2 separate regions of the Homo sapiens genome follow, and region 2 is linked to region 1. The links come from fine-mapping of genetic effects on gene expression. A gene starts in region 1. The other region holds a variant in brackets. All regions are shown on one strand. Distances are between the middles of the regions.

The links. PIP is the estimated chance that this variant, and not a neighbour inherited with it, causes the effect.
Region 2: its variant is fine-mapped to the expression of AP1S2 in whole blood (TOPMed, PIP above 0.99). The same link has a PIP of 0.9 or more in blood mononuclear cells and monocytes.

Annotation. Positions count from the first base shown.
Region 1 is chrX:15,848,422-15,863,763 of GRCh38, forward strand. It overlaps AP1S2 (adaptor related protein complex 1 subunit sigma 2), which reads right to left and starts at 6,392. Exons shown (of 6, transcript NM_001272071.2): 1 at 6,267-6,392; 2 at 3,925-4,103. The coding sequence starts at 4,103. RefSeq lists silencers at 5,819-6,108, 6,329-6,608, 6,699-6,808 and an enhancer at 6,426-7,030.
Region 2 is chrX:15,907,153-15,922,494 of GRCh38, forward strand. It overlaps the pseudogene RNU5F-7P and the pseudogene SETP15. Among named protein-coding and RNA genes, the nearest start is that of AP1S2, 60 kb to the left of the region's middle. RefSeq lists an enhancer at 1,514-2,426. The variant AGAT/A (reference allele first, on the strand shown) is at 5,796.

The DNA of each region.
Region 1 (15,342 bases):
CCCAAGTTTTACATTAAAAACTATAGCCAGCAATTGCATTAACGTAATCCCATACCTGGCAAAAATTAAAATGTGCTCGAAACAATATTTTAAGAGCTTTGAAGAGAAGTAAAATATGCCATACTGATTTAGTAAAAGATTACCAAGAGAACCTGAAGTGTACTTCCTATATTTAGGACCAAATGGTTTTAAAAAAATCAATAATGAGCTCATTTTGTTCTCTTAGTGCCTATTTGTAAGTCTAAATCTGAAGTAAAATTAATAATAGACTAGTAAGAAGAAAGGTATGTTTGGTTATTTTTAGCACAGTGGATTAAGGCTTACTCTAATTACTGGCACTCAGAGAACATCTGAAAGTGCCTATTCTTATATTCAAAACACATGACTTCTCCGCAGTCAGCTAAATATCAGCTAAATATCAGCTGACTGTGGGTGAATGTAGCTGAAGTGTTCTCAATACCCACTGGTATGTCATTAAAAATTCTTTTGTTAGTAAAGAAAATCAGTAAGTATTCTTTAACAAATTATCAAGCTAGTAATTTGGAGATATATATGTTTTTAAATTAATTTTAAAAGACCTTAATCCAGTGACTCTTCCACAAAATGCTACACAAAACAGGAATCAAAAAAGCACAGTATTCTGTCTTGAAGGGATCTTCAAGAGCATTTAGAGATAAGGAAACAAAGTGACTTGTTTAAAGTCATAAAACTAGCTAACGTTACAAAGGGAACAGAACTTAAGTCCCCAGATTTTCAGTCTGTCTTTTCAGCTAATATTATTCTTATCCATCATTCCCCTCTCAAAAGGGGGAATTTGTATGCCAAATACTCAGGATGAAGAATGTAGATGAGATAATTTAACAAAAACAACAAAAATCACTTGCTGATATGAACAGCAGAAGTCCCAGTCCAGAATTTCTCAGGCGCTAAGCAGTAATTCTCCTGCTTAAAAAGCTCTTCGCTTCCAGCAGTAGGGAAAACAAACCACCTGTTTATACCAACAAAAAATATGTCCGTAAGTGGTAGAGTAGATGAGGTTTTCAGTATGAAATGGAAGGGGGAACGTATAGAGAAAGAACTGATAAATTCCACCTTTTGTATATGACTGATATCTCAATAAAGCTGTTTTTTTTAAAGTCCACCTTTTATTTAAAGGTGCTTGATATAAGTATCAGAGTTGGATTAGATACCCTTTGTAGCTTTCAAAAGAAAAAGTAGTGGCTCAACACGGACAGACTGAGTGACATGTGCATGAACACCAAGCAGTGCTTTCCTTTCTTCCCATAACAGCCCATTCCTGGGATTGAATCCCTTGCTGGTATTTTCCTCCTCCACACGGGGGACTCCTTCCCCTATCTAGAAATAAGCTTAAGCCTCTCACACCTTCTTTTTTAAAAACCTTGTCCCCCACTCCTATGTCTATGAGTGGTTACCACCTCGTCTCCTGTCCTTCACAGCAAAGTTCCCCAAAATAGTCTACACATGCTATTTAAATTTCTCCACCTCTTCACACTTCGCCCCATTACATCGAGAGTTCTATCTCCACTATTCCACTGAAAATGTTCTGGCAAAGGGCATTATATGAAATGCTCACTGTAAAATCTACCAGATTCCTTCCTCACTTTCATTGAACTTTATGCAACATCTGGCATTGGTGAAATTTCTCATTCCACTCTGAAGGTCCCTTCTTCATCTCCTTTGCCTGCCACTTGAATGCTGGTGATCTAATACTTTGTCTTATTTTCCCCAGACTTCCATACTTACACCAACCACATCCCACCAGAAAATCAGGCTTCTCTTAATGAAAGTCACATAGACATCCCCAAATCAACTCACCCCAAAATAAGCCGAGTTATCTAGCTCACCTTGTACCCCATCAGCAAACCAGAAATGTGGAGATCACCCCACTCCTCCCTTTCCTTCGCTGCTCTCTCCGCTTTGTTGTTGTCGTTGAGGGTCTCACTCTGTCACCTAGGCTGGAGTGCAGTGGCCCAATCAGGGCTCAGTGCAGGCTTGAACTCCCAGGCACAATCAATCCTCCCACCTCAGCCTCCAGAGCAGCTAGGAATACAGGTGCATGCCACCACGCCCAGCTAATTTTTTTTTTTTTTTTTAATTGTAGAGACGGCGGGGTCTCACTAAGTTGCCAGGGCTGGACTTGAACTCCTGGGCTCAAGCGATTCTCCTGCCTCGACCTCCCATATTCTTCCCACTTCTAGAGGTGACCAAGTCTTATCAAACCTACCTATTTGATAATGGCTATTTAGTGACAGCCCTCCTTTCTAGCGCCTGGGTTCAGGATCTCACATAGTCTCCTACTGATCCTGCAGGTGCCAGTCTCAGCCCCTCCTGCCCTCATCCATTGTCTCAGTTCAATCTTTTAAGATATGTAAACCTGATCTTTTTCCAGCCCTGTTTAAAATCTTTGCCTCTAAGCTTAAGATCTGAGTTGCAGCCCCATGTCAATCACTAACTGGCATATGGCCCTAGACAAGTCACTTCTCCCAAATTTGCATTCTTTATAAAATTGAAGTTTGATCAACAACGGCAGTTTTCAAACTCAAGAACTGTCTCCTGTGCAGAGGGGTAAAGGCCAAGTGAGCCAGGATACAGGATCCTCATTCCTGATTTCACAAGGAGCAGCCTCACTTCCACTCATTTTATTTAAGGTTCTACCCATGGGGCAAAAAGCTTAAAACAAAACAAAACAAAACAAAATCACCTGACTAGATCACTGTAAAACATCTCTCACCTCTCAAATGATATGACTTTTCTATAATCTTTAATAAGACCAAACGAAACACTGGATACAAAATCACCCAAAGATACAAAATCACCAAAGATCATTCAATAATAAAGAGGAGTCCTCAGTATTTAAGAAACTTATGTCTTGTAATCTCCATTTCTTCCCAGCCATCTCCCTGACAAAATATCCAACCCATATTTGGAGTGCAATAAAGGGAAGCTGAGAAGAAAACCAGACTTCTCTCCCACCCTCATTGTATCCCATACTGTTACTTCCATGTATACTCCCCACACAAGAGAACTTTTTATATGCAGAAATGCTCTTATCTTAAATTCAGCAAATTATTCAAAAAGAAACAAATGGGGAATGAAGTAAATGTCCCCTCAAAAAATGTTCTGTAAAAGAAGAAAGTTTATTTCTTTTAACCTACTTAGAACAATCTTGAGAAATTTATTTTAGGGTATTCAGGGTTTCAGATATTTATAAAATAAAGACGTATAGCATTAAAAAAATTTTAGTGTTAAAAGCCAATCTATGAGTCATTTTGTAACATCAAATTTTTAAAAAATCTGTCCTTGGAAAAATTATCTGTCATATTTAATTGCACCCCCACCATAGCAACAAGGGTACTTAAAAGTTAATAAACACTACTTACAAACACATCTCATGTATACACAAAGTTTTTAAAACATCTATGTGATTGAAATAGTCTACATAGTCAAGGTATTTACACGTGAGTAAGATTCTAAAAATCAGATAAAAGGCATGTCAAATATTAGTCATTACTTTATAGATTTTCGGGGAAAAAGAATTAGACTCTATCTGTACTTGTCTCAATTCAGAGAATTACTCACACAATTTAAAATACTGACCCTACTTTCCCCTGCAATGAAATGAATTCATTAAACTCTTCTATAAAGATGATTAAGCATGAATAATCATTTATGCCTTTAATTATATAACTAGTTTTCAAAGGATTTCCCTGCCTTTATCATTTCAGCCTCAGTAATTATCAATCAAAACACTAGTTATTTTAAAAACACAAAGCTTTACCTTAAACCTATTTCATCTAAATCTTTATTAATCGTTATTTATAAATGTCATCACTGAAGTCTGCAATTTCCTAAATGACCTAACATTTGATTCTATTTCACCTTTCTGACAAACAAAAATTATACCTTTTGTAAACAATCTTCAGATCTCGCCACTCAAGGAAGCTGCACATTTTAGGTTTCCGTGCTAAAACGGTCTGAACAAGTTCTCTTGTGATCTTTTTCTTCTCTTTGTCTGATAGTGGGACATACCATTTTTGCAGTCGAAGCTTTCCCTGACGACTAAAAAGCAACATAAACTGCATCTGTTAAGATAAATAAAATCAAGATTACATGTAATACTTTGAATCAATAAAGTTAAGATTATGTGTTTCACAGAGAAGTTTTGGGGGATGGGGCATTTACATGACAAATGATTAGTAGCCATCAATATTTCTATGCCAATTAAAATAGCAAGAAATTCTTTTGGACAGATCTTCCTCTAGATGCAAACCTTCCAATCCCACCTTGTTCCACATTAAGTTTGAAGGGGAGTGTGCAGGAGAAAAAAGAAAAATGGGTAATAAGCTGAAGTGAAATTTTTGAAGAAAAATAAAGATCACTCTTTCAATTTAAGAAACTATTTTCTACCTGTGCTATACATTGCGCACTCTCTATATGCATCAAAAGAGAATGGTAGACATCATCTGGTTTGGGTACTTTTGAAAGAAACAGAAGACCTGCTATTTTTCATCCTGAGGCCGTTCTAGTTCCAGGGTGAATTACTTGCAGACAGTAGCTTATGTCTTGGAATGTTCTCCTCAGTTTATGATGGCATATTTTAAGCAAAACAGAATGATCCAAAATATTAACTGAAAAATCCCATAAATACAAATTTTCATTAATAAAAAAGTATGTTTTCATCTGACTTTTAAAGCATTCCAACTTAAATATGTACAAAATCTAGAACTGAGTTAATGTATTATGAAAAAGAAAACAAACGTTTAAAAGGCCACAATAAGATTTACACTTATTAAATAAGATTCAGCATTGAAACATTACATGAAATACTTCATTTAAAATAAAAAATAGTATCTACAGATGGAATGGATGCTGAATTCTAGTGTGTTTTATACTTAAACTAATTTGTATGTATTTATTTGTGATCTGCAAATGTGTTGATTAGTCTGCATGTTTCATTTTTAACGCCAAGCTTTTTGTAATCCAATTGGTCATCTCAACTGCAAACAGAAGTATTGTTTCTACAAAGGTAATTTAAAGGCAGAATTCACATAGGTATCCTTTTTTCTTTTAATCACTGTTAAGTTCCTTTAACAGCGTTACTGCAAATAAGATTCAAGCATGATTCTCAAGATTCACCACACCATCTTGAATTTGAACACGGGGAGGGGAAATTTACAGAACCAATGTAGAATAAAAATGGGCCCTAAATTTCGGTAAGAAATTATCGTCGCTTTTTGTAACCACCCAAAAAGGTATCAACAAGATATCTAGAAATGTATGACGTGGCAATTCAACTTTAGTAAAGTTAAAATGGTCTTATTACCTCACTTAAAATGCGTCAGGGGAACAAAATATAAGGACATTATTAGGTGATACCAAAGTGCCTCCCGTGCAAGTCCTGAAGATAGCGGCATTCGAAGGGGGCAGGAAGTGAAGCATCAACTGGGCATTTACTGCAAACCCGTTACCAGAACTTGGAAAAGAATGGACCTCGTATTCCTAGATCTTGGTGACCAGAAAGGGTGAGGGTTTGCCTGCGAAGAGTATGGGCTCAAGGCTGTCTGGAGCAGGGTCCTGTATCCGCCCTACCACTTTGCAGGACGAAAAAACAATGTATTCTCCTTAAAATAAATTATGTCCTAACATGGGACGAAACCCGGTTGCAAAGCACGAGTATTCCTTCCCTCGTGTTAAAAACCAACGCTTTGATTTTGCCGCAAATCACAGGGCACCACAATTCCTCGAGACTGGCATTAAAAACAATGGGCTCAGCCGCGGCGCGGGCTCGGGGCCAGCGTTCCTCGGGTCCGGCCGTCGCCGGTGCCTCCCCCCCACTCCCGTGGCCACACTCCATCACTGACCAAGCCCGGGAGAGGTGACAGGCAAGGAGCGGAGCAGACAATGGCATCCGCCGCCGCGCAGGGGGCGCCAAGAGTCCTCGGCCGCCACCGCCCCCGGCCCCTCCCGAAAGCGCCCCGCAAAACTTGAGGCGATTCCCGAACCACAGGTGCCGCGAGGCTGTCGCGGAGCCCGGGACTGGCCCCCACATCCCCGGGCGCGGCGCGGAGTGGTGCGGAGGGCGCGGACACGGAGAGAAGTGAGTTGCGGGCGCGGCGACCCAGTGGCGGGCCGGGCAGGCTCGGGGTGGGGTCGTCGGGGCGCGCGCGGGGTGGCGGGGGGCGCGCCCAGTCCTCCCTCCCCCTCTCCCCCATCCCCGGCGCCCCCTTTCGCCCCCAGGGACTTACGGCGGCCGCGGGCCGCGGGCGCGGCGGAGCTTGGCCGGCGGCGGCGGCGGCGGCGAAGGGGAAGCCCCTGTCGCCGTGCTGAGGAAGAGAAGCCGTGGTGCTGTGGGGAGGACACCCGGCTGGCATAGGGCAGGCTTAGGCGGAGAGGGGAGGGCAAGCTGACAGACCCCGCCCCGGGGGCCGGACGAGGGAGGAGCCGGGGCTGCGGCGAGCTGAGGGGCGGGCTAGGCGACGCGCGGGAAGCGGCTCAGCGGTCGCCAGCGGCACCGGAGGCAGCGCGGGTAACCGCTGAGTCCAAGGCAGCCGATTGGAGGTTTCTTCGCTGAGGGGAGGTGCGAACCGGAAGCCGGGCCACGTGACCCGGAAGCGGCGTTTGCCGGGCCCGAGCGCCCGCGCGCCCGCGCGCTCTTGCAGGTGCCTCCGGGACGCGCGCGGGCGGCTGTCCTGCTTGTTTAATGATAGGAGGACGGGATTCTGCAGCGTCCTTAGCCTAGCGGGTGGTGCGGGGCAGGGAAGTTCCGGACAGCGAAGAGCCACGTTCGAGCTCTAATGATTCTCTGTGTCCCCAGAGAGGAAGTGTGAAGTGTGACGGCTGACGAGGAGGGTGGGAGGAGACGAGGGAGTGCTGCAACTCTGGAAAAACAAGTCAGCTCTTCTGTGGAGCTCGTCACGCATTCACGGGCCTTTTGCTATCATTCTGCCTCAAAATTGTCCGGAATCCGCCCTCTCCTTCCCATTGCACTGCTCCAGCCCTAGCCCAGACACCTTCCGCCCCGAGCTTCGCGGGAGTCTGTTCCCTGGGCTCGCCTCGCCCATCCTCGGTGCTGCGGACTGGATGAGTTACCGTCCGTTCGGCTGAAAAGCCCGGACAGCACCTCACCTTCGAGATCCCGCTTCCTTCACACTGGGTCGCCCCACCAGCCGCCTGGGTTCCAGTTTAGCACTGCCGACGACTTGCTGTGCCTGGCATGTCCTTGCTCCCAAATGTCACATCTATGAAGCCTCACCCTAAAACCCTGTAAGAGCGATTCCCTCTTTCACCCACATGCCCGTTAGCCTTTATTTAGCACACCTTAAATTGTATTCATTTTGCATCTCAATCTAGTTCACAGCCTGGTATATAACAACTAATAAATGTGAGTTGACTGATAAAGACTATAAAATGATAAATTTGTTAAGAGCTGTAATGCTGAGCGTAATGCCTGGGCATAATGGATGTTCATAATTTTCTGAATGATAGAATGGATGAATCATCTAGTCATTTACAGATAAGGAAAGGGGAGTCCCACGGGATTAGGTGACCTTCCTTGAAGAGCCACGGGTTTCCCATATCGAAATGCTATTCATTACCCGAGTCACCTAGGTTCTTACAAAGGAAGCGAGAAAATTGCTTTTGTTGGGCCATGCCCCTTTTGCAGAGGTTCCTAAGTATAGTCGCCAGAATTTTTTTAATGGCCTAAAGTAAAAAAAGAAATGCTAAAATTTTCACGAAGCTAAATGTAATCAATGTAAAGGAATCCTTTATTAGGGATTATATTCTTTTTGTGTACATTATAGTATCTATGAAACTAAGACAGTAGTTTTGGGGGCTTTTAAAAAATGCTTTTGTATGACAAAACAAAAAGAAATGTGTAATACTTCCCCTTTTCAAGCACTACTGTGCTGCTTGGAAAGTTTCCTACTAACATGTATGATTAATGTATACTGGAATATTAAAGAAAGGGGACGACACACGGCACAGAGCTGGCTTTCTGTAGTTCTTTAGGTCCCCCTCGCCCCCACCAGATTTCTCCCTACCTAGTCATGCCCCAAAGGTGCTTTCGAATGTCCCATTTCTCTCTTACTACAAGAAACAGATGCCATTAACCAGTTAAAAGATAGCTCTAATGCTACACAATGAAAACTCGCCCTCTGAATCCAAATGCTGCTTTTCTCTTTTTCTGTACAAAACACTTATATCCTGAAGGTTCCTGAGATAGCCACTTCCAAGTTTAAACTCTGATTATGCTCCTAATGTTGCTCTGAAAATGAGGACGGGAGACTTGCTGATGACATACTGGCAGTCTCCTTTCCTGCTCCTAGCCAAAAAAAGGTGGGGGTAGGGGTAGGGAGGGGAAGGAATTGTGGGAAAAATAATTAGCAGCTGAAAGCAGCTATTACATAATCTTGGCTGCTTATTAATTTAGCAGAAGGAATGGCTTATTAAATTCTAATAGCAACAGCACAACTGCAAACAACCTAGCAATTAACAGTGCAGGGCCCATTATTTTGTTAATATGTTCTCTTCTTTTGGCAAGTGTATGAGAACAAAATTTATAGAAGCAGATGGTCTTTTTCAATAGATTATAGATGGTTTATTCCCTAGTCTTAGTATTAAGTGCTAATTATGCATTCACTGTGAAAGACAAAAGAAACATGGTTGCCATCTTTGTTAGTAATTAACTGCTTGACTTTGATTCCCACAATTTCCCAATTGTAGGCTTTGTTATATACATGTTTCTTCTCACCTAGTGTCTTCTTCATCCGTCATGTCAATTGGTTATCTTTTTTAATCCTGTTTTTGTTTTCTAGATGGTCCTGATTTATTGGTGTTAATATTGATACAAGAATTATATACAAAATTCGTTTCATGAAAAACTAAAAATCAGATTTTATACTTGTTTCTTAAATTTGAAAAAAATGCTTCACTGTCATTTATGCTAAATGTAAGAGGTGAGGGGAAAATAGAAATCTTTACCTTCTAACGATAAAATTTTGAGACTTTTTATGTAATCTTTCCAAAGTTTTCAAAAATAATTTTAGTTTCCTATTAAATGTGTGATGGCCATATACTTTTATCCTCTCACTGTCTCAAAATACCATTAATTTTTTTTAAAGGGACTATTTAAAACACATACCCACGTGGAAAATAAGAGAGGGAACATTTACATGAGGATGTCGATAAGGATGTCAGGATACACTGTCAGCTCATCATTTAAACACTGATGATTTAAAGAAAAATTGTCATATATTGATATTATGGAGGAGCAGAAGTGAGGGAAGGTTGAAATAATGCTAAATCCTCATGTGCTAAAGGGAAGAAAATAGATAACATCTAAAATAAATCACGAACTAGAATTATTAGCATATTCTTTCGATACCAGGAAGTAAATCCCAGAAGCAATGGTGAATTTCTTTCCATGGACAGAATCTTGCAGTAGGATGTAATAAAGGGTATTATTACATTTTACTTAGGTTTTTTCTTAAATAATTTTTTAAAATATTGTAAGGAGGTAGATAAAAACCATTCCATTAGTTGCTAGCTCTGTATTATGGACTTATACAGAGTTCCTTTAGCCAGTCTATAGATTATTTAGAAATTATTAAATAAAAATGCCCAATAATGGAATTCAGTGCTGAAGCCTTGTAGATCACAGAAAGTGTAAAAAAGATGTTTAGAGTTTGTGAATTTGCATCTCCAAAGATAAAGTTGTTCCAGGGAGAAAAATGGCCTAAAATAATGAGGATTTGTGAACCAAATCATTTCAAAATAGATAGAGCTGTCACTGCCAAAGTCCTCAACAATGAGCTAAAGAGAAATGTGGAACATATGCTCTTTCTCGAAGCCTGTTTCCATAGCTTTGAATAAAATGCAGGAAAATTACTACTGCCCTATGAACATTAGGATAGAGCAGTGATTCTCAGCCTGGGCACTTTTGCCTCCCAGGGGACACTTGTCAGTGTCTGGAGACATTTTGGTTGTCACAACTAGGAGTAGTAGGTGATGCTGCCAGCATCTAGTGGGCAGAGACCAGGGATGCTGCCCAGCATCCTGCAACATACAAGAGAGATCCCATAGCAAAGAATGATCCAGCCCCAAATGTCACTAGTGCCAAGGTTCAGGAAGAAATCCTGGGTTAGTCACTGAAAATATTAACATGCAGTAGCATATTTTTATAGACATTTCAAGAAATGGAACAAACATTATCTTCATATAAGTTTCTCTCTCTCTCTCCCTCTCTTTCTCTCTCTCTCCTCCCTCTCCCTCTCTCTCCCTCTCTTTCTTTCTCAGAGTTGGAGCCATTATTCTTAATATCTGCTAGATAAAATCCTTAACTGCTTAAAAGACTGGAGGCATACATAAAGCAGTCAGTATTCTTTAATAGCAACTAGAATAAACTATCCAAACTGATTTTCAAAAAATGACCCCAGAATATTAGTAAAAGTTACTTAAGCACTTGAATCCATGAGATGCCTATTCCATCCATACATACATTGTAAATGTTTGTTAGGTATCTACTTTATGCTGGGGCACTCTGGAAGGTAATGAAGATATAAAGACAAATAAGATATTGACTTGGTCCTAAAGCTCCATTTCTTCTGACACAGAATTTCTAGTCTTTTAGAGACAAACCCTGGATGGTCAAAGGATAGTCATCAACCAAACGTATGAACATTTTCTTTTAGGAGACCCCTAGAGATGCTTCATAGAACCTTAGATTTCTGTAACCAACACGTTTGAAAACTATGTGCTCTCATGACCTCCCAGGGCTCTTCGCAATATTTTCGTTCGATGAATTTCTATGTCACTCTTAATTCACAGCAATATAAGAGAGAGATTCTGTATGTTTTAAACAAACGATTTCAAATAATGTCTTGATTTGATCCTTGAAGTGAAATGCTTCAACAATGATCTAACTCAACTCCAAATCGCTAAACCAGTGGTTCTAGAATATTCTTTTAGAGGACTTGTGAAAATACAGGTTGCTGGGCCTCATTCCCATAGTTTCTGATTCAGGGGGTCTGAGATGAGGCCTGAGAATTGCATTACTAACAAGTTTCCAGGTGATGCTGATGCTGCTGGTCTGGGAACCACACTTTGAGAACCATTGCTCTATACCACAAAAAGCTATGATATCCAACTAGAAAGTTGTGATATAATTTTCATGGTCTAAAGGAAACTTGAGATCTGAATATTTTTTTAATCGCTGACCTCATTAAGCCCGAGAACATTAGAAGAGTAATATTCCCAGTTATATTCACCTGAAGCTAAATCTGTATGTACAACTGAGAATGACATATGGTCATTGTATGCCCTGCACAATCTAATGCACTATAATATTCTTTTTTTTTTACTTTTTTTAAAATTATACTTTAAGTTATAGTGTACATGTGCACAATGTGCAGGTTTGTTACATATGTATACATGTGCCATGTTGGTGTGCTGCACCCATTAACTCATCATTTACATTAGGTATATCTCCTAATGCTATCCCTCCCCCTCCCCCCACCCCATGACAGGCCCCGGTGTGTGATGTTCCCCTTCCTGTGTCCATGTGTTCTCATTGTTCAATTCCCACCTGTGAGTGAGAACATGCAGTGTTTGGTTTTTTGTCCTTGCAATAGTCTGCTGAGAATCATGGTTTCCAGCTTCATCCATGTCCCTACAAAGGACATGAACTCGTCCTTTTTTATGGCTGCATAGTATTCCATGGTGTATACGTGCCACATTTTCTTAATCCAGTCTATCACTGATGGACATTTGGGTTGGTTCCAAGTCTTTGCTATTGTGAATAGTGCCGCAATAAACATACGTGTGCATGTGTCTTTATAGCAGCATGATTTATAATCCTTTGGGTATATACCCAGTAATGGGATGGCTGGGTCAAATGGTATTTCTAGTTCTAGATCCTTGAGGAATTGCCACACTGTCTTCTACAATGGTTGAACTAGTTTACAGTCCCACCAACAGTGTAAAAGTGTTCCTATTTCTCCACATCCTCTCCAGCACCTGTTGTTTCCTGACTTTTTAATGATCGCCATTCTAACTGGTGTGAGATGGTATCTCATTGTGGTTTTGATTTGCATTTCTCTGATGGCCAGTGATGATGAGCATTTTTTCATGTGTCTGTTGGCTGCATAGATGTCTTCTTTTGAGAAGTGTCTGTTCATATCCTTTGCCCACTTTTTGATGGGGTTGTTTGTTTTTTTCTTGTAAATTTGTTTGAGTTCTTCCTAGATTCTGGATATTAGCCCTTTGTCAGATGAGTAAATTGCAAAAATTTTCTCCCATTCTGTAGGTTGCCTGTTCACTCTGATGGTAGTTTCTTTTGCTATGCAGAAGCTCTTTAGTTTAATTAGATCCCATTTGTCAATTTTGGCTTTTGTTGCCATTGCTTTTGGTGTTTTAGACATGAAGTCCTTGCCCATGCCTATGTCCTGAATGGTATTGCCTAGGTTTTCTTCTAAGGTTTTTATGGGTTTAGGTCTAACATTTAAGTCTTTAGTCCATCTTGAATTAATTTTTGTATAAGGTGTGAGGAAGGGATCCAGTTTCAGCTTTCTACATATGGCTAGCCAGTTTTCCCAGCTATAATATTCTAAGGCAGAAACTGAAGTGCTTAGGGAAACTCGAAGGTTGCATCATAAAAGTCAGATGCTTACTTGATGAAAATCACTACCTTAAAAATATTTCCCAACTACTCATGGCAAGTAGGAGTCACCTCTGAAATACTTTGTCAGCAATTAAAGACATGGGGTAGAAAGGAAGAAGTCCAGAGGGAACAGCTAGACAGAATCAATGTGTCCCAGGGGTAAGGCAGAGACCAGAGACCGCTAAGTAGTAATCAAAACCTGCCCGTTCTCTTCCTTAGCACACAGCTAGACCTCATTCCGCTGCTTCCTCTGTAGTTAGGTGTGCCCATGGAGCTGAGATCTGGCCAATGAAATAGGAATAAAAGTGACAGGTCTAGCCTATAAAAAGCTCCCACAGGAAAGTCTGTTTCCTTCTTCCCTCCTTCCCTCCCCAGACCTGCTTTTGCCACTTGGATGATGACACCCAGGTATCCTGCCAGCCTGAGTTCCTGAATGACTGCAAGGAAGAGACGTACACAAACCACTACCACCATCATCACTCCTATTGTACTTGAAATGAATGAGAAATAACTTTGTATTAAGCCACTGATTTTTTTTCCCAGGTTCATTTGTTACAGCTGCAAGCATTCCTGTTCATTCTTGAAAGCTTGTTGCATACTTAGTTACAAAGAGAAGGAGCCATGCATAGTGATGGGAAGAGCAAGTGAATTTTCAAGTGGATACTTGATTCTAATCCTGCTTTTTGTGCTCTTTTATATGTCTCCCTTCCATTGAAATTTGAGAAGAATTGTTAAACAGTCTGAGCACAGAATTTTAAACTACTTGTCTATCAAAGAGGGCAAAAAGAATGATTTAAGGCTCTTTTTTACATTCCTCTGACAAAGCCTAGCATTAATACTAGGCAATAGAAAAGGCAAAATTTAAAAAATCGTAAGGCTGAAAGGGCTGAGGAAGTGAAGTGGGGTGGTGGGCAAGCACATTTGGGTAAACTGTCCCTAATTGGCAAAAGTGAATACAGTATTATCATCAACCTCTTAGAATCAAAAAACCAAAGCTTGAGATTTATTTTTGACTCTATTATATCCTTGTCTTCTAAATACTATACAAAAAGCTAAGTTAAAATATTTATCCTAAAGCACTATTTAGAATACAGGAACATTTTAATTAGATAATTTGATGAAAAATTTTAGAAATACTGTACACATTTTAAATATAACACATATATAAGATAATAGAATTTTAAAGGTAATTTTATTCAAGAATTTTATTTTACAAGTGAAGAATGAAGTCCAGAGAAGTTAAGCAAATTGTTCAAGATCATACCAGTTAGTGGCAAGTGGAGAAGTAAGACTCCTATGTTCTGTCTCCAGGCAATGTTCTTGCCACCACAGGACACTGTCTATTGCCCAGAAACTACTAGCCCATTATCTTTAGGCAAAAACAAACAAATAAATAAATAAACTGAAAAACCTTACCCTTGAAATGTAAACTCTTCAATTCTACTTCCTTTTGCCTTTCTGTCCAGTATTAAAGTATTTATGTCTTTACTAGCTGACTGAAATCCTTGCAATCTCCAAAACTGGGATAATATCTTAATAACTGCTTTATGGCATAACCTAATGCAATGCTTTGCATAGAGTAAGTACTCTAAAATGTTAATTAAGTTGAATTGTGGTGCCAAAAGAAGGTTTAGGCTGAGGGCAATGGCTCACGCCTATAATCCCAGCACTTTGGGATGCCGAGGCAGGCGGATCACCTGAGGTCAGAAGTTCGAGACCAGCCTGGCCAACATGGTGAAACCCTGTCTCTACTATAAAAACACACACACAAAAAATTAGCTAGGCGTGATGCTGCATGCTTGTAATCTCAGCTACACAGGAGGCTGAGGCAGGGGAATCACTTGAACCCAGGAGTTGGAGGTTGCAGTGAGCCGAGACCGCACCACTGCACTCCAGCCTGTGCAACAAGAATGAAACTCCTTCCCCACCCCCCCCAAAAAAAAGGTTTAATTGGGCCCTGTCTCATTACTTCTTGAGTGTATCAGTTTTTCTGGAGTATTCTCCTTCTTTCCATCCCCATTAATATTGCACTAGGTCAGACTAACAAACTGGACTTTATATCTCAGCTCATTCTCTCCACCTGATTCCATTATGGTTCTTTCTGCACATGGCCACATGCTTTTCTAAAACATAAATCCAATAGAGATTAAACCTTCTGCTTAAAATGCTTCACCTTCTTTATTACTTCATTCAATTTGCACACCTGTGCCAGGTACTCACTGAGAACTGGGGGTAAAATAGAACACAACTTAGACATGGAACCTTTCACCAGGTTCTTAAGGTATAATGGGAACAAGATGGATGGCACAGTATATAATCAGCAATCCCAGTACAATGCAGTACAATGCTTCAAACTAGGAAGTTTCAAACGGTACAATGTTTCAAAGTAGGAAGGCCAGGGACCTGTGGGAACACACAGGACAGTGCCTAGCCCAGAGTTTTTGTGGTAGTGATGGGTGGTAGGGTCAGACAATGTTTCTTGGAGGACAAAGCCCTTAGGCCAAGATCGGAAAAGAATGGGGGAGACAGTCAAGAGAAGACAGGGCAAGAATGTTCCATATAGGGAGAATGACATTTGCCAAGACAAAGAGATGGGTTCATGTCTTAGGTACCTGAATGGAAGGTTAGTGTGGTCAGAGGGTTCCTGGGTAAAGATGAGTCTG
Region 2 (15,342 bases), 59 kb after region 1:
AGAGGCTGGTCTTTGGTGATAAACTTTACTCGAAAGTTTTTACTCAAAAAAGTGAAATACAGTTACTCAGGAGGCTGAGGCAGGAGGATTGCTGGAGCCCAGGGGTTTGAGGCTGCAGTGAGCAATGACCATGCCACTGCATTCCAGACTCTGTCTCTAAAAAGAATGAAAATGTTAAAAAATAAAATTAATTTAGAAAATAAAATACATTTTTAAAAAAATAGGTGCTACAGAGTGGGTGCCTTAAACAACAGAAATATTATTTCTCACAGTTCTGGAGGCTGGGATGTCCAAGATCAAGGCCCTTGCAGATTTGGTTGCTGGTGAGGGCTCCCTTCCTGGCTTACAGATGGCCAACTTCTCCCAGTGTCTTCACTTGGGTGGGGGTGGGGGTTGGAGGATAGGAATCTCATTCTCTTATTCTCTTCTTACAAGGTCACAATCTTATCTCATTAGGGCTCCACACTTATGACCTCATTTAACCTTAATTTCCTCTTTAAGTCCCTAACCCCAAATACAGTCACACTGGGGGGTTGAGGCTTCAGCATATAAATTTGGGGGGGACATGATTCTGTCCATGGCAATTGGACTGGCCTAAAAAAAAAGACTTTAATATTAAGATCCTTAAGTTATTATTTAAAAAAAAAACCCTGACTTAAAAAAATTGTTGTTAATAATTTAAAGTTTGAAAATACACTAATCTGTGGAGTGTTGAAAGTCAGGATAGTCATTCTCCTGGGGAATAGTGACTGAAAACACGCACAAAAGGGGCTTCCGGGATGCTGTAGTGCTCCATTTCCTGTTTGAGTGCTGATTGAAAGAATATAATTGGTTTGTGAGTATTCATTGAGCTGTTCATACATAATTTGCACACTTTCCTGTATGTGTGTTGTAGATCAATCAAAAGTTAAAGCATAGGCCAGGTGCGGTGGCTCACGCCTGTGATTCCAGCACTTTGGGAGGCCGAGACGGGAGGATCACTTGAGCCCATGAATTCCAGACCAGTCTGGGCAATGTAGTGAGACCTCATCTCTACAAAAAAATAAAAAGTTAGCCAAGTGTGGTGGCACGTGCCTGTAGTCCCAGCTACTCAGGAGGCTGAGGTGGGAGGATGGCTTGAGCCTGTGAGGCAGAGTTTGCAGTGAGCTGAGATCAAGTCACTGCACTCCAGCCTGGGTGACAAAGTGAGACCCTATCTCAAATACGTAAATAAATAAAAATTTAAAATGAAGCATAAATAAACCTGAGCGACACATTTAATACCAGAGATAAACTACACAGTTGTCCCATTGTCTCAGCCTAGACGATAAACAAGCTGCTTCTCCTTTGTCCTTTCTACTTTAAAAAGTCACAAGAGGTTAAAATCTAATGAGTTGGAGTATATGAAGAAGATTAGCCTTCTAGTTGAGTATAATATTGTCTTCCCAAAGGTACGGGCAGAACCGCAGACACAGTTAACGTTTCTGCCTGACATTGCTTGATGCTGTTTTGCTCAGACTGGTAGCTTAGCAGCTGGAGGCTAAAAAGTCAAGTTTCCAGGGAGAGGAGGAAGGCTTTCTGGACAAAGGGCAAGTGGACTCCGGGCCAGGGGCATAGCCGGTGTCCTCTCAAGAGTGGTGGCAGTTTTAAATGGGTTATAAACAAACACTGCCATGTTGTTCTGAGAGGTTCCAGCTGCCTTAGGCAGAGGCTTTGGATCTGTGCAAGCGCCAAAGCTGGCTTTCATAGGTGATGGGTGGAACTGAAGGATCACTTAAGACATTTGTGACCCTGAATATCCATGTCCCTTGAAGCTTTACACACACACATCCAAGGTAGAGTTGGTTTTCCCAAAGACAATTGCTGCTAAGGAGTTTGAACTGTGTAACAGTTTAGACCAGCCAGTGGCTTTGTAGAGACCTTTGAGAGTTACAATTAGGTTGCTGCTCAGATTGCATAATGCCAGGACTGTGCTCCATTGTTCCCAGCTCTTGCATTCAGTATTTTATTGTTTCACATTGTGCTTTAACTTGCTACAGAACATTAACAGCAGTAGCCAGTAGTTGAATGTTTTCCAAACCTTTCAAATTTGTAGAGCTGACTGTGCCACACTGGCTAATGAAAATTTCATGGTTCCAGGAGTGCTGGCTTTATCAACAATTATCTTGGTGATCTTGTATGGTCTATCATGTGTAAAACAGCATTATGTGCTTTTGCTTAACTTTTATAATTGTTGCTAAACAATTGTTTAAAATTACTGCATAAATGCTTTTAAAATAAATTTTGAAGCTCTTTGACATCAGTGCCCTCTGCCTGGTGGAAAGTAATGATTTTTAACGTTCTGATTTGGTGTTTGTTGGTGGAGTGTGTGTGTGTGTGTGTGTGTTTACTGGGAACAGGCTCTATCTGTTGGTGCTTTACTAAATTAATGGATTCTAGACATTAAAGCAAACCAAAAATATTTCACCTGCAAATATACTTTTCTGACATATTTCGAGATGGGTATTCAGAGGGCCTGCAGACAGGAATAGCCCAGCAAAACTGCCTTTTGTGGAGGAGATTTGCATCTGCAGAGAAAATCTGCATAGGTGAAATAAACAGCCAGGCTTTCTCTGAGGCTCCTCCCTTGTCTACATCTAGGAAAGATTGACTGAGAGCCTGACGCCTTTAAAGGTCTGACAGAAACATTCACCACAGGCTACCATCTATTCTTTCTGAGGGCTGCTCCCTGGGAAGTTTCATCTACATAAAAAGATGGCCTTTGCTCCATGCCTTTCTTCCTCTTCTCTACCTCCCATGACTTGCATGCTCTAAACCCCTATTCTTTCTGTAACCTTAAGACGGTACAAAAGCATCAACCATCTGGCCATTTTTTTGCATTTTCATATTTTGTGTGACTCCCAGCATGTAATAAATATTTATGGCATTTTTTTCTGTTAATCTTTGTATCATCAATTTGTTTTATAGGCTCAAATGAGTGAACCTTCAGGGGAAAAATGTAAACTTTTCTACAGCATTCATGATCACTTTAGGCTGTAGGTGTTGGTAAGTTTCTAAGCATTTGGGGATGTAGCTCTCTTTGCTTCACCATTAACCATCCTTTGACATTCAAAATGTCGTTGGACCACCAGCATGGCATTACTCAGGAGCTTATTAGAAATGCCGTCTCAGAGGCTCACCTTAAATATGGTATATAGTGGCAGAATCTGCATTTCAGCAAGATCTCCATGTGATTCCTATGCACATGCAAGTGAATCAGCAAGTAGGCCATGGAAGGAATTAAGAGATCTCTTTTCTCAAAACATCTCCCACTGAGCCAGGATTGTCATTATTTAGAATGAATTTCTCTAGTTTATGCCCCTTTTTATGAAATATCCCTGGTCTGCATACATAACTCAGCAAGTCATTTTCAGTTCAAAGCCTTCATGTGATCCATCCACTTGAGACAAATGGCAAAGAGCAGGTTGATTGGAAGGTGAGGGTTGGGGGAGGGAAGTAGAGTAGAAAAATGCAGTGCCGGCCAGGCGCGGTGGCTCACGCCTGTAATCCCAGCACTTTGGGAGGCCGAGGCGGGCAGATCACGAGGTCAGGAGATTGAGACCATCCTGGCTAACACGGTGAAAGCCCATCTCTACTAAAAATACAAAAAAATTTAGCCGGGTCTGGTGGCAGGCGCTTGTAGTCCCAGCTACTCGGGAGGCTGAGGCAGGAGAATGGTATGAACCCGGGAGGCGGAGCTTGCAGTGAGCCGAGATCCTGCCACTGCACTCCAGCCTGGACGACAGAGCAAGACTCCGTCTCAAAAAAAAAAAAAAGGAAAGAAAAATGCAGTCCTTTTGGTGGAAGAAAGTGGGCCAGCTCTATGACCATGGTTCCCTGGGACCGGGAAGCTGTGCCACAGTGGTGGGCAGGAAGTAACAAAAATACCAATCAATAATGCTCACAATAATGGTAAATAACTGTTGGTTCGGGGGTTCCTAAACTTGTTTCACAATCAGAATCACCTGGGTGGTAGAAGGGGACTTCTGTTTTTAAAATTATTTTTAAGGAATGGGGTCTCACTCTATCACCCAGGCTGGAGTGCAGTTGCACGATCCTAGTTTGCTGCAGCCTGGAACTCCTGGGCTCAAGCCATCCTCCTGCCTCCACCTCCCAAGTTGCTGGGACTACAGGTGTATGCCACCATGCTCGGCTAATTTTTTAATTTTTATCTTTATTTTTGTAGAGATGGAGTCTCAATATGTTGCCCAGGCTTGCCTCAAATTCCTGGTCTCAAGTGATCCTCCCGTCTTGGCCTCCCAAAGTGCTGAGATTACTGGTGTGAGCCACCTCACCCTGCCGAGGCTTCTTAAAAAATATAGATTCCCCAGAGGCAGGGACCCACCCTGCGTTTACGCCATCAGGAGAAACCTGACAATCTGTGTTTTAAACTAGTGCCTCAGGTATTAAAATTTATGCAGGACCAAGCAGAAGGTGAGCCTGGATCCTGTGGCTGATGATCCAAAAATATTATATCCAGGGCTCACAATAAGCCTAAAATATATTATGACATTTTCCTAACTGCATTTTATAATGGAGAAGTTGGGTTGCTTGCCCAGTGTCACACAGGCAGCGGGCAACAGATGGAGGATTCCATCGTAGATCTGTCTGACTCCAAAGTCTTTGTTCTGTCTATTCTTATACCACTTTCCATAAAGCCACTAGGGCTGAAGTGCTATCTTACTCAGGGCACATTCTGGTTGCCTCATCTCCCTTCTGTGGGGGTGATGGTTTCTGCAGAAGTTCCCTAATCTGACCTCAAATTATGACATCAGTATCTAGGCTTGAGTAGAATTGTGCAAGGAGACCAGACTGGTGAATTAACAAGGATGGTCCCCTCCTTCTTCCCCTTCTGTTGTGGTTAATAACTAGTAACTCAGACCCTATGATACTGATCCCCATAGGGATGAGAAACAGGGCTCTCTTGGGTAATTGAAAATTTCTGGTTGCCTGGGTATTGAGGCAGTTTCCAAAAGTGATGGAAGCAAGCACATATTGCTCCTGCCCTCTGAGACCTTATTTTGTTCCAATAAATCCCTAGAAAGAAAATACAGCAATTTAGTACAGCAATGTTAAATAGTGATAGTAGAGGGAACAGGGCACCATCTGGGACATTTGAATAATTGTCAAGGTTGGCTTTTCTTTAAATGCTGCTTATTGCTCAGTCCACCCATATTAAATCACTAGAGCTACAAGTCATCTGGTGGTGATTTTTTGGCATTACAAGATTGCGCTTGCATATTAAATTCCTCAACTTAGGCTCAGTTTGGGAATTCAAAATGCAGCATTTGATCCTCATCTGTATTTAATCTTCTGTTGTTGGTTACAGCTCCTTTTACAGGTTTATTTAAAAAACTTTTGATTCTGATACGGTCATGTTGAATAGTGGTTTCCCATGCAGGGTGTGCAAACCACCCAAAAATTATCTTTTTCATGGCAACATTAAAAAATTTTAATTTATGTGTATGTTATAATGTATATAATATTGGACTATAGTGGTAGAACATGTATATAATTTGTAAATAAATACAGATAAACATGGGGGGATACATGATTCAAAAGTTTTCTCCCTTTGAAATGTTGGCTCAAAGTTTACAAACTTTTCATCCAATATATTACCTCTTCCTAGCAGCATCATGTTATCTTCTCATTTAATAAGAGAGCCTTCATCTTTGTCAATTCATGTTTACTGAACTATGTAGGATTATGTGAATGTTCCAGCATATATAAGAGGATAAGACATTTGCTGTTCTTAGGACGTTTAACTATCTGGATGG[AGAT/A]GATGATGATAATAGTGGTAATTTTGGAGGAGGTGACAATGTTAATGGTGGTGATGATGCTGATGTTGCTGGTGATGATGATGGCCAAGAAAGAGATAAAGAAGAAAGTCTTATTTATGGTTGAGATTAAAGCAAAATGGGAATTGAAGGCTTCTCCTCCCTGCGATCTGGTAATGCAACATCTTTACCTAGCAGTGATGCTCTTCCCTGCTTGTTCATCTTCCTTCCAATATAGCTTAAAAATACTTTTTAGTCATCCTCAGCATGTACTATAAATCTCAGCTTCCTAGGATTTGAGCCTTGTGCAGGAGGTTTTTTCTAAGCCCCTTCCACTCTTCTGTATGTATTTTGGTCCTCAGTGCTCCACAAGCTGTGAAAGCTGTGAGTCATGATTCCCATATGGTGGGATTCCCTCCCCTCCCCTCCATCCACATGCTTGCCCTGCCATCTGCTGCCACTCTCAAGGTTATAGAGCAAGAGATAATGCAGGGAAGGGAAAGGAAAACACCAGGAAAACCAACACTGTTTTATAAGTAAAATAGAAAAAAAAAGATGTATTTTTCTTACTACGAAAACAACTGTATTCACTACAGAGAAATAAAAAACGGAAGCACAAAACCAAACCAAACCAAACCAAACCAAACCTAACCAAACCCAACCCAACCAACCCAACCCAATCCAAACAAAACAGTCTCCCTCTGAGCATCATTCATCACTTTAACCATCTCCATGTATGTTTTTCCAAATCTGTATTCTGTATCTATCTATGAAGCCAGCTATCAAATAAAATAAGATCATTACCACATATTTTTGTGACCTGTTTCTTGTTTAACTGAATCATGAACATCTTTTCATGTCAGTAAATGTACCCCTAAACTACCTTTTTTTTTTTTTTTAAGACAGAGTCTCACTCTGTCGTCCAGGCTGGAGTACAGTGGTGCAATCACAGCTCACTTCAGCTTTGACCCCCCGGGCTTAAGCAATCCTCCCACCTCAGCCTCCTGGATAGCTGAGTAGCTGGGACTACAGGCATGTGCCTCCATGCCTGGGCTCAAGCGATCCACCCACCTCAGCCTCTCAAATTTCTGGGATTACAGGTGTGAGCCACCATGCTCGGCCCACACTAGCATTTTAATATTTAATGAATATTTTCTATGCAAAGCATTATTCCAATTGCTGCAGTTTATACAGAAAAATAGGTAAGATAGTCTCTGCCCTCATGTGGGTATGGCATCATTTTTTTCTCCCTATCTAACATTTAGGTTATTTCCATATATTTGCTTTTACAAATAATGCTGTGATGAATATCCTTGTAGCTAAGTCCATGCATATGCTCATAATTTTAGAATGATTGTGCTGGCTACTCTCTGTTTGCCCCTCTGGTCTACTCTTCATTCTTGTCTGCCTTGGTCCATGGACCACATCAGGGCTCATTTGCCCTCTGGCAATGTGCAGCTCATGCAGGGCTTTGGGGAGGGCGGTAGAGAAGGGTGGGTGATATATTGTGACTCCTATCCTGCCTCCCTGTAGGCTGTCATTAGCTGCATTCTTGTATTGATGGTTGTGGTGCCTGGGTAGCCCTCTCCCAGAGCTTAGTTCTCAGGATGTTGCAAACCCCAAGGTAATGCACCATTCCTTGTTAGTTTCCTTTAACCTTGCCCTTGCCTTTATAGAGAGTTCTTTATTAAACCTTTCTCACTTACCCCATGTGAGTTTGCCATCTGTTTCCTGGCAGGACCCTGGATGATAAATGCATGCTCCTATTCCTAGCATATTCTGCATCCCTAATTGCTCACCTGCATTGGGAACTTGGGATGGATTGTGTAGGAAGGTCAAGAGCTCCCTTTTTGTTGACTGAAGGACTGGATACCCGTGATCATTGAGCAGCCATCTTCCATTTCTTTCTCCTGGACCCCTCCAGGCTCTGATGGGGATTTCTCAACCTATGCCTGTGGCACTCTGCTGGGGCCCAGAGGAAAGAATCAAGAGAGCCCTTAGTCCTCCTGCTCAGAGCTTTGACCTCAAGTATGTGAGAATTTCACCTTGTTCAGGATGCTCGAAACCTTCCCTAGAGTCCAAGTGAGGTGGGAAAGGTTGTTGTGGTCATTTCTTATCCTTTTAAACACCTGAGCTCACAGCAAAATTTGTTTATTAAATTATTTCTCTAGTTTTAAACAGTATTACAATTTTTTTTTTTTTTTGAGACAGGGTCTCGCTCTGTGGCCCAGGCTGGAGTGCAGTGGCATGATCACGGCTCAATGCAGCCTCAACCTCCTGGGCTCAAGCGATCCTTCCACCTCAGCCTCCCAAGTGGCTGGGACCACAGGTATGCACCACCGTGCCCAGCTAACTTTTGTATTTTTCGTGGAAGTAGGGTCTCCCTGTGTTGCCCAGGCTGGTCTTGAACACCTGGGCTCAAGCCATCTGCCCACCTCAGCCTCTCAAAGTGCTGGAATTACAGGCGTGAGCCACCATGCCTGGCCTATGGTATTCTTATTAAATAGCCAGAAGTATATTTTCAGAGCTTCTAGCTTGGATTAGAGTCCCCTGATACTATTTCTTCTGTGATTCTATCTTTTCTGTGCATCAGTAGAAATGTGTTTTCCTAAAGTCTACAACCAGTTTTACCTTCCTTGCCTTTGGATTTTCAGATAACACAATCAATCCCTTTATTCAAAGGTTCTTCACACTTCTGTTTAATCAATTGTTCTTGACTGTTCAGAATGAAGTGTCTGTCGCATTTCTTTTGTTACCTTCTGTTCAATGAAATTGTTAGCAAGCCTAGTCAAAAATGATCAAATACTCTTCTTTTTGGTGGCAAATGAGAGTTTTCCATGGAGGAGCTTTGGAGGAGGGTTGTAGACAAGGGTGGGTGATATATTGTGACCCCTACCCTGCCTCCCTGTAGGCTGTCATTAGTGCATTCTTGTATTGACGGTTGTGGTGCCTGGGTAGCCCTCTCCCAGAGCTTAGTTCTCAGGAAGTTGCTAACGCCAAGGTAATGCACCATTCCTTGTTAGTTTCCTTTAATCTTGCCCTTGCATACCCTGCATATTTGGGGTCCCCATCGTATTGCCCCGGACCCCGCTCCTTAATAAATTACTGCCTTTGGGAATTCCAGTTCCCAGAGGTGGGCACTAGGAGAAAGTTGGTTTCAGAGTCAGAAAGATCTGGAGTTTAATCTAATCATTATTTATTTATTTATTTATTTATTTATTTATTTATTATTATTTACTTGGCCCTGCCTAAGCAGGACCTCAAAAATTTGGTTATTAATTAATAATTGTTCCTCTCCATGGAAATCTTTAGTAAAAGGCCAAATATTTATTTGTTCTGAAGAGAAACCAGAGCATCCAATATTATTGGCTGTGTGAATCTAAGGCTTCTGCCTTACTGAGTTGCAAGCTTCCTGACTCAGCTCACAGATTATAAGAAGTAAATGGATTGACCTCTACGGAAATAATCAAGCACAGTGTGAGGAACTGTGGTTGCTCAGTCTGTGACTTATCCTCCCCAACTCCCTTTCCCACTTCCTCTTGCCATGCCTCTTCCCTCCTCCCTCTCCCCATCTCCCTCCCCCTTCCCTCTCTTCTACATTTCCCCTTTTCTTGCTACTTTCCATTTCCTGTCCCCACCTCTTCTCCTCCCTACTCCTCATCTCTCCTCTACACTTTCTATATGAGACTAACACGAGGACAAGAGGAATTAAAAACCAAGTCAGAAATATGTCAGATAGTTCCATTTCTCTTTGAAAACAAATCTTAGATGTGCAGGGCATTGTACTCAGAAGGAAAACTCCCAATCATAAATCCAGGCTCCAAAAGGCTTTTCCAATACGCCCCATTTAGTTCATGAACTCTCACCGTGGAGCATCAAGGACACAAAGAATGGCAGGAAACTGCTGATAATGTTCATTATTTTCCCAGTCTTTGAAAAATGCCCGTTTAATGTTTTGGACTGAAGATTTTTCCTGGTGAATCAAAAGATAAACTCTTAAAGTGGTTACATGATATATCAAATGGTCTTATCTGGTGGAAGCCAGCCGGCTAGCTAACATGAGCCAGTTCAGTAATTCTGAGGTGTTTGGAGTCAAGCTGGGAAAGGGATCCTGGGTTTCAGGAAACTGCTGTATCAGCTGATGGGGGCTGCTCTAAATGTTGGCTGGAGAAATGCACTTTGGGCCCTTTGCACCAAAATTTAGATTTACCTGGTTTCTCTTCTCAATTCTTACAAATCCTTAGCTTATCAAGGAAAATCAATGATCTTAAGATCTTTTAAGACTTTGCCCCACAATATGATGACAGAAAATATATTTTATCTTAAAATTTTATTACACTATATTATATATATAAAATAAATAATAAATATAATGTATAATATATATGTAAGTTGTGAAGACTATTGACATATAAACACACAGAGGCTGGAACATTAATATCTGGGTTGTTCTCCATGATGTCTGCCTCTCCCACCAAAATACCTGCTCTCCTGAATTTTGCATTCCCCTTCTTTAAAAACAAACTACTGAGTTTTCTGAGCTTCTTCCTAAGGAGTCAGGAGACTCGTGGTCTGGTTCCTGGATTTTCCTCACAACACAGCTCCCATATGCCTTTCTCCACTCATGCCTCAAAAGGAGAAACCAAGACCACTTTCTCCTCTGAGACAGGCAGAGACATCAGCCTTTCTGGGCTTGCTGAAGAAGGGAGAAAAAAAACTACAAGAAGCTATTGAACATATTGATGAAGTAAAAAATGAAATAGATTTAATGAACTAGCCAGTGAGAAGATTTTGACAGTAGAACAGAAATATAACAAACTCTGCCAACCATTTTTTCAGAAGAGGTCAGAATTGATCCCCCAAATCCCAAATTTTGGGGTAACAGCATTTGTCAGTCATCTGTAATCACCCAACGGATTCTTCCTGCCTGCTGCACAGATAAAATCAATTCACTGAGACCATGGTATTGTAGTAGAGGAAGAGTTTAATTGACACGAGTCCGGCCACGCAGGAGATGGAGTTATTACTCAAATCAGTCTCCCTAAAGGCTTGGAGGTTAGGGGTTTTCAAGGATAGTTTGGTGGGCAGGGGACTAGGGAATGGGAAATGTTGATTGGTTGGGGATGAAATCATAGAGGTGTGGAAAATGGTCTTTGTGCACTGAGTCAGCCTCTAAGTGGGGGCTGTAGGACCAGTTGGGTCATGAGCTGCAGTCACAGTCCAGGTAGAGTCATCTGAGTAGAGTCATCCCATCATCAGAAATGCAGAAGTCTGAAAAAATATCTCGAAAGGCCAACCTTAGGTTCTACAGTAAGGATGTTACCTACAGAAGTAATTAGGGAAGTTACAAATCTTGTGAACCCTGGAACAGTTGTTTATGCTTACAATTTAACAGAATTTTGGCCCCTCTCATAATCCTAAACTTGTGGGCTTTGATTCATTTTACAAAGGTGGTGGTGGTTTAGTTTTGGGAAGGGCTATTATCATCCTTGCTTTGGTTAAACTCTAAACTAAATTATTCCTCAAATTAGCTTAGCCTATACCCAGGAATGACAAAGGACAGCTTGGAGGTTAGAAGCAAGATGGAGTCAACTATGTCAGATTTATCTTACTCTCATAATTTTGCAAAAGTAATTTCACATCTGTAAGTGTCTGCACTGCTTGGGGAAGAGGAAGAAGAGGCACCTTGAGCAATATACAATGGGAAAAGAGTCTCTACCCCTTTCTGTTTCAATTCATTTTTATCCCTTTCTGTCTCAACGAAAACTGTATGGAATCAACACCACTGAGCTCTGCGGGAAAAAAGAAAAATCTGCTTCCTTTGCTCTGCTGGAAGCAGAAGGGTGTTAGGCCCCTGTGTGGTAGAGCATAGAATTCTAGCTTTTTTCCTTCTCAGAAAGAACACTGTGTCTCTTTGTGAATAAGGACAATTAGCATTTACCAACATGCATCCGTCTACTTTCTCTTGTTTAAAAACATAAAAAAGAATTTTTTAAAATGGGGTTCTAGGAAGTCAGTAAAGGTTAGGTTTGAGATGTTTGGATGGGTGAAGTGGGCATTTTGACAACATGGTTTCTCCTTTGGTATGTTTAATTGTGGTTTTTTTTTTTAAGCATCAGTTTGGTGAAAAATAATTTTGATGTTTACCAGGCATCCTTGCAGTTTAAGATGACACTAAAAATGAATTCTCTCCTACTGATGACTTGAGCCCTGCCACTTGCTAGAAGAATCAGCAGAACCTGTAGGATCTCATTTGGAATTGGCATGCTCTATTGTAATTTTGTCCGTGTTTATTTTTAAATTTTGATTTACTGGAAAGGAAAGATGATGCTCAGTTTTAAATGTTAAACGTGTACAAGTTGCTTTTGTTACAAAAGACTAAATGTGTACACAAAAACAAAAAAAAATTACTCTTACCAGATGCATTTCTGAACAATTTGTTTAGTTTTGCTTGTTTTTGAGCTTTATGCAAATGTCATAATAATGTATGTAGTGTTTTTTTCCTTCAAGTTTCTAACATTTATCAGTTCATCCGTATCATCGTTTGTAGTTGGTATTCATTTCTTTTTACTAGTGCCTTTGGCCAGGCACGGTGGCTCACGCCTGTAATCCCAGCAATTTGGGAGGCCAAGGTGGGTGAGGTCAGGAGTTTGAGACCAGCCTGGCCAACATGGTGAAACCCCGTCTCTACTAAAAATACAAAAAATTAGCTGGGCTTGGTGGCAGACGCCTGTAATCCCAGCTACTTGGGAGGCTGAGGCAGGAGAATCGCTTGAACCCGGGGGGTGGAGGTTGCAGTGAGCCCATATCACGCCACTGCACTCCATCCTGGGCAACAAGAGTGAAACTCTGTCTCAAAAAACAAACAAACAAACAAACAAAACACCACAACTAGTGCCCTTACATTTCATTTGGTGAATGTACACAATTCATTTATCCATACCACTGTCTATAAATATTTTGGTTGTTTATTGTTTCTGGGTGTTTGCATAATAGTCTTGCTAATGTAGATGAGACATATATTAATAAGAGAGCTGGTCACGGTGGCACATGCCTGCAGTCTCAGCTACTCAGGAAGCTGAGGCAGGAGGACCATTTGAGACCAGGAGTTCAAGGATGTAGTGCACTATGATTGTTCCTGTGAATAGCCATTGCACTCCAGCCTGCGCAATATGGCAAGACCCCATCTCTAAAAACAAAAAAGAATTATAAGAATTTTTATTATTCCTTTGTCGAATTGTCATAAACACTAGGTTAATTTTTCTAGTGTCCCTTTGCTCTTTTTCTCATTTCATCATTGCGATTCATCACCTAAAGAAACTTAGATGCAGGAAAAAAATAAATGATTTGCCCATGCTCTGTTATCACTGCTGTTATTTTCACTGCTGTCAACTCCAAGAATGAGTTAAGTCCTCTCTTGATTCTTCTTGTCCAAACAAAGAAGAGTGCCTTCCATTCTGATACCAGAATTTGAAAGATATTTATTATGATCTCATAAATTTATGACCCAAGAGGCAGTGTGTTATAGAGAAAATAATGTAAGCTCCGGAAGCAGGAAGATTTGGGTTTTAAAATGCTGGCATCAGCACTGGTGCTAGGGGAAGTGTTGTGCAAATTACTTTATTCTAAACCTCATTTTCTCATCTGCAAAATGGAGATAGCAATGTCTTCCTCTAAGGATGGCACACTAATTATATCAGGGAAGATGTGTGAAAGGTCCAGTCATCACATTATAAAATAAGGAACAGAGGGGGCTCACAGCCTGACCAGTGGAACTCATGATCCTACCCTAAAACCGACTCAGGTGGAATAAAAAGAGATCAGTTCTGGCTTGTTCAATTTCTGACATTTCCATGGATGGGTCTGGCCCAGAACACAGATTAGTGAGGTCTTTTGTTCACTGGATGGTAATATAATGTCTTGATTTTCTTCAGGATATCAGATTTTTCTTCCAAAACCTATCTTATGGGTTTTTTTTTTTTTTTTTTTTTTTTTTTTTTGAGACAGAGTCTAGCTCTGTTGCCCAGGCTGGAGTGCAGTGGCCTGATCTCAGCTCACTGCAACCTGCGCCTCCCGGGTTCAAGCAATTCTCCTGCCTCAGCCTCCCAATTAGCTGAGACTACAGGTGCACACCGCCATGCCCGGCTAATTTTTTGGATTTTTAGTAGAGACGGAGTTTCATTGTGTTAGCCAGGATGGTCTCGATCTCCTGACCTCGTGTCCGCCTGCCTCGGCCTCCCAAAGAGTTGGGATTACAGGCGTGAGCCACCGCGCCCAGCCTTTTGTGGGTTTTTTTTTTCTTTTTCTTTCTTTTTTTTTTTTGCTATGAGGAGGGGTTTTAATGAAGAGACTCTTTACAAAGAGTCACCCTCATCCCCTCATCTTGTGGGTTGTTTTTAACAGTTCTTTCGGCTGGTCGCCGTGGCTCATGCCTGTAATCCCAGCACTTTGGGAGGTGGAAGCAGGTGGATTACCAGAGGTCAGGAGTTTCAGACCAGCCTGGCCAACATGGTGAAACCCCATCTCCACTAAAAATACAAAAGTTAGCTGGGCGTGGTGGTGGGCGCCTGTAATCCCAGCTACTCTGGAGGCTGACGCAGGAGAATCTCTTGAAGCCGGGAGGTGGATGTTGCAGTGAGCCGAGATTGTCTGCACTCCAGCCTGGGCGACAGAGCGAGACTCTGTTTAAAAAAAAAAAAAAACCAACCAACCAAACAAACAACCCCGTCCCCCCGACCCCCCACCCCCGTCAGTTCTTTCATGCTGAGATAATAGCATAAAATTTCTTTGTACTTTCTGTTTGGCTGTGAAGGAAACCAGAATGTGTCACCTCAAAATATGCCTCTTTGACATAAATATTTTTGAGCTAAAGGCAAATAAGAATCAGCAATCAGAGGAAGAGCTCTTTCTATTCCCCACCCCTTCACTTTTTGCCTAAAGAGAGGACATAAATTCTCCTTTACTGGAGACAACTCTTATCAGCTCAGAGATGGCACCAGAGGAATCTACTAACAAAACTTGCTCCATTAGGTTACTCCCATGTATTGACCTTTCCATGGTTTCCCACCTTTGGAAGCCTAAAACTGCTTTTCTTTGTGTGTTACTTCCCTAAAATTCATGGTTCTTTGTTAAAGATGCTATATAAACCAGAGTTCTAAGCCACTGCTTTGAGTTACCTGTCACTGAGATTTCTTTTATGTGATGTGCACTGCATGGTTAATAAAATTGCTTGTTTTTCTGTTGTTAATCTGTCTTTTGTTACAGGGGTCAGTCCTAACTATGAACTTATGAGGGTTGAGGAGAAGTTATACTTCCTCCCTGACCCAGAACACAGATTAGTGGAAATCTGGCCAGGCGCGGTGGCTCACGCCTGTAAATCCCAGCTCTTTGGGAGGCCGAGGCAGGCGGACACGAGGTCAGGAGATCGAGACCATCCTGGCTAACACAATGAAACTCCGTCTCTACTAAAAATCCAAAAAATTAGCCGGGCATGGCGGTGTGCACCTGTAGTCTCAGCTAATTGGGAGGCTGACACAGGAGAATTGCT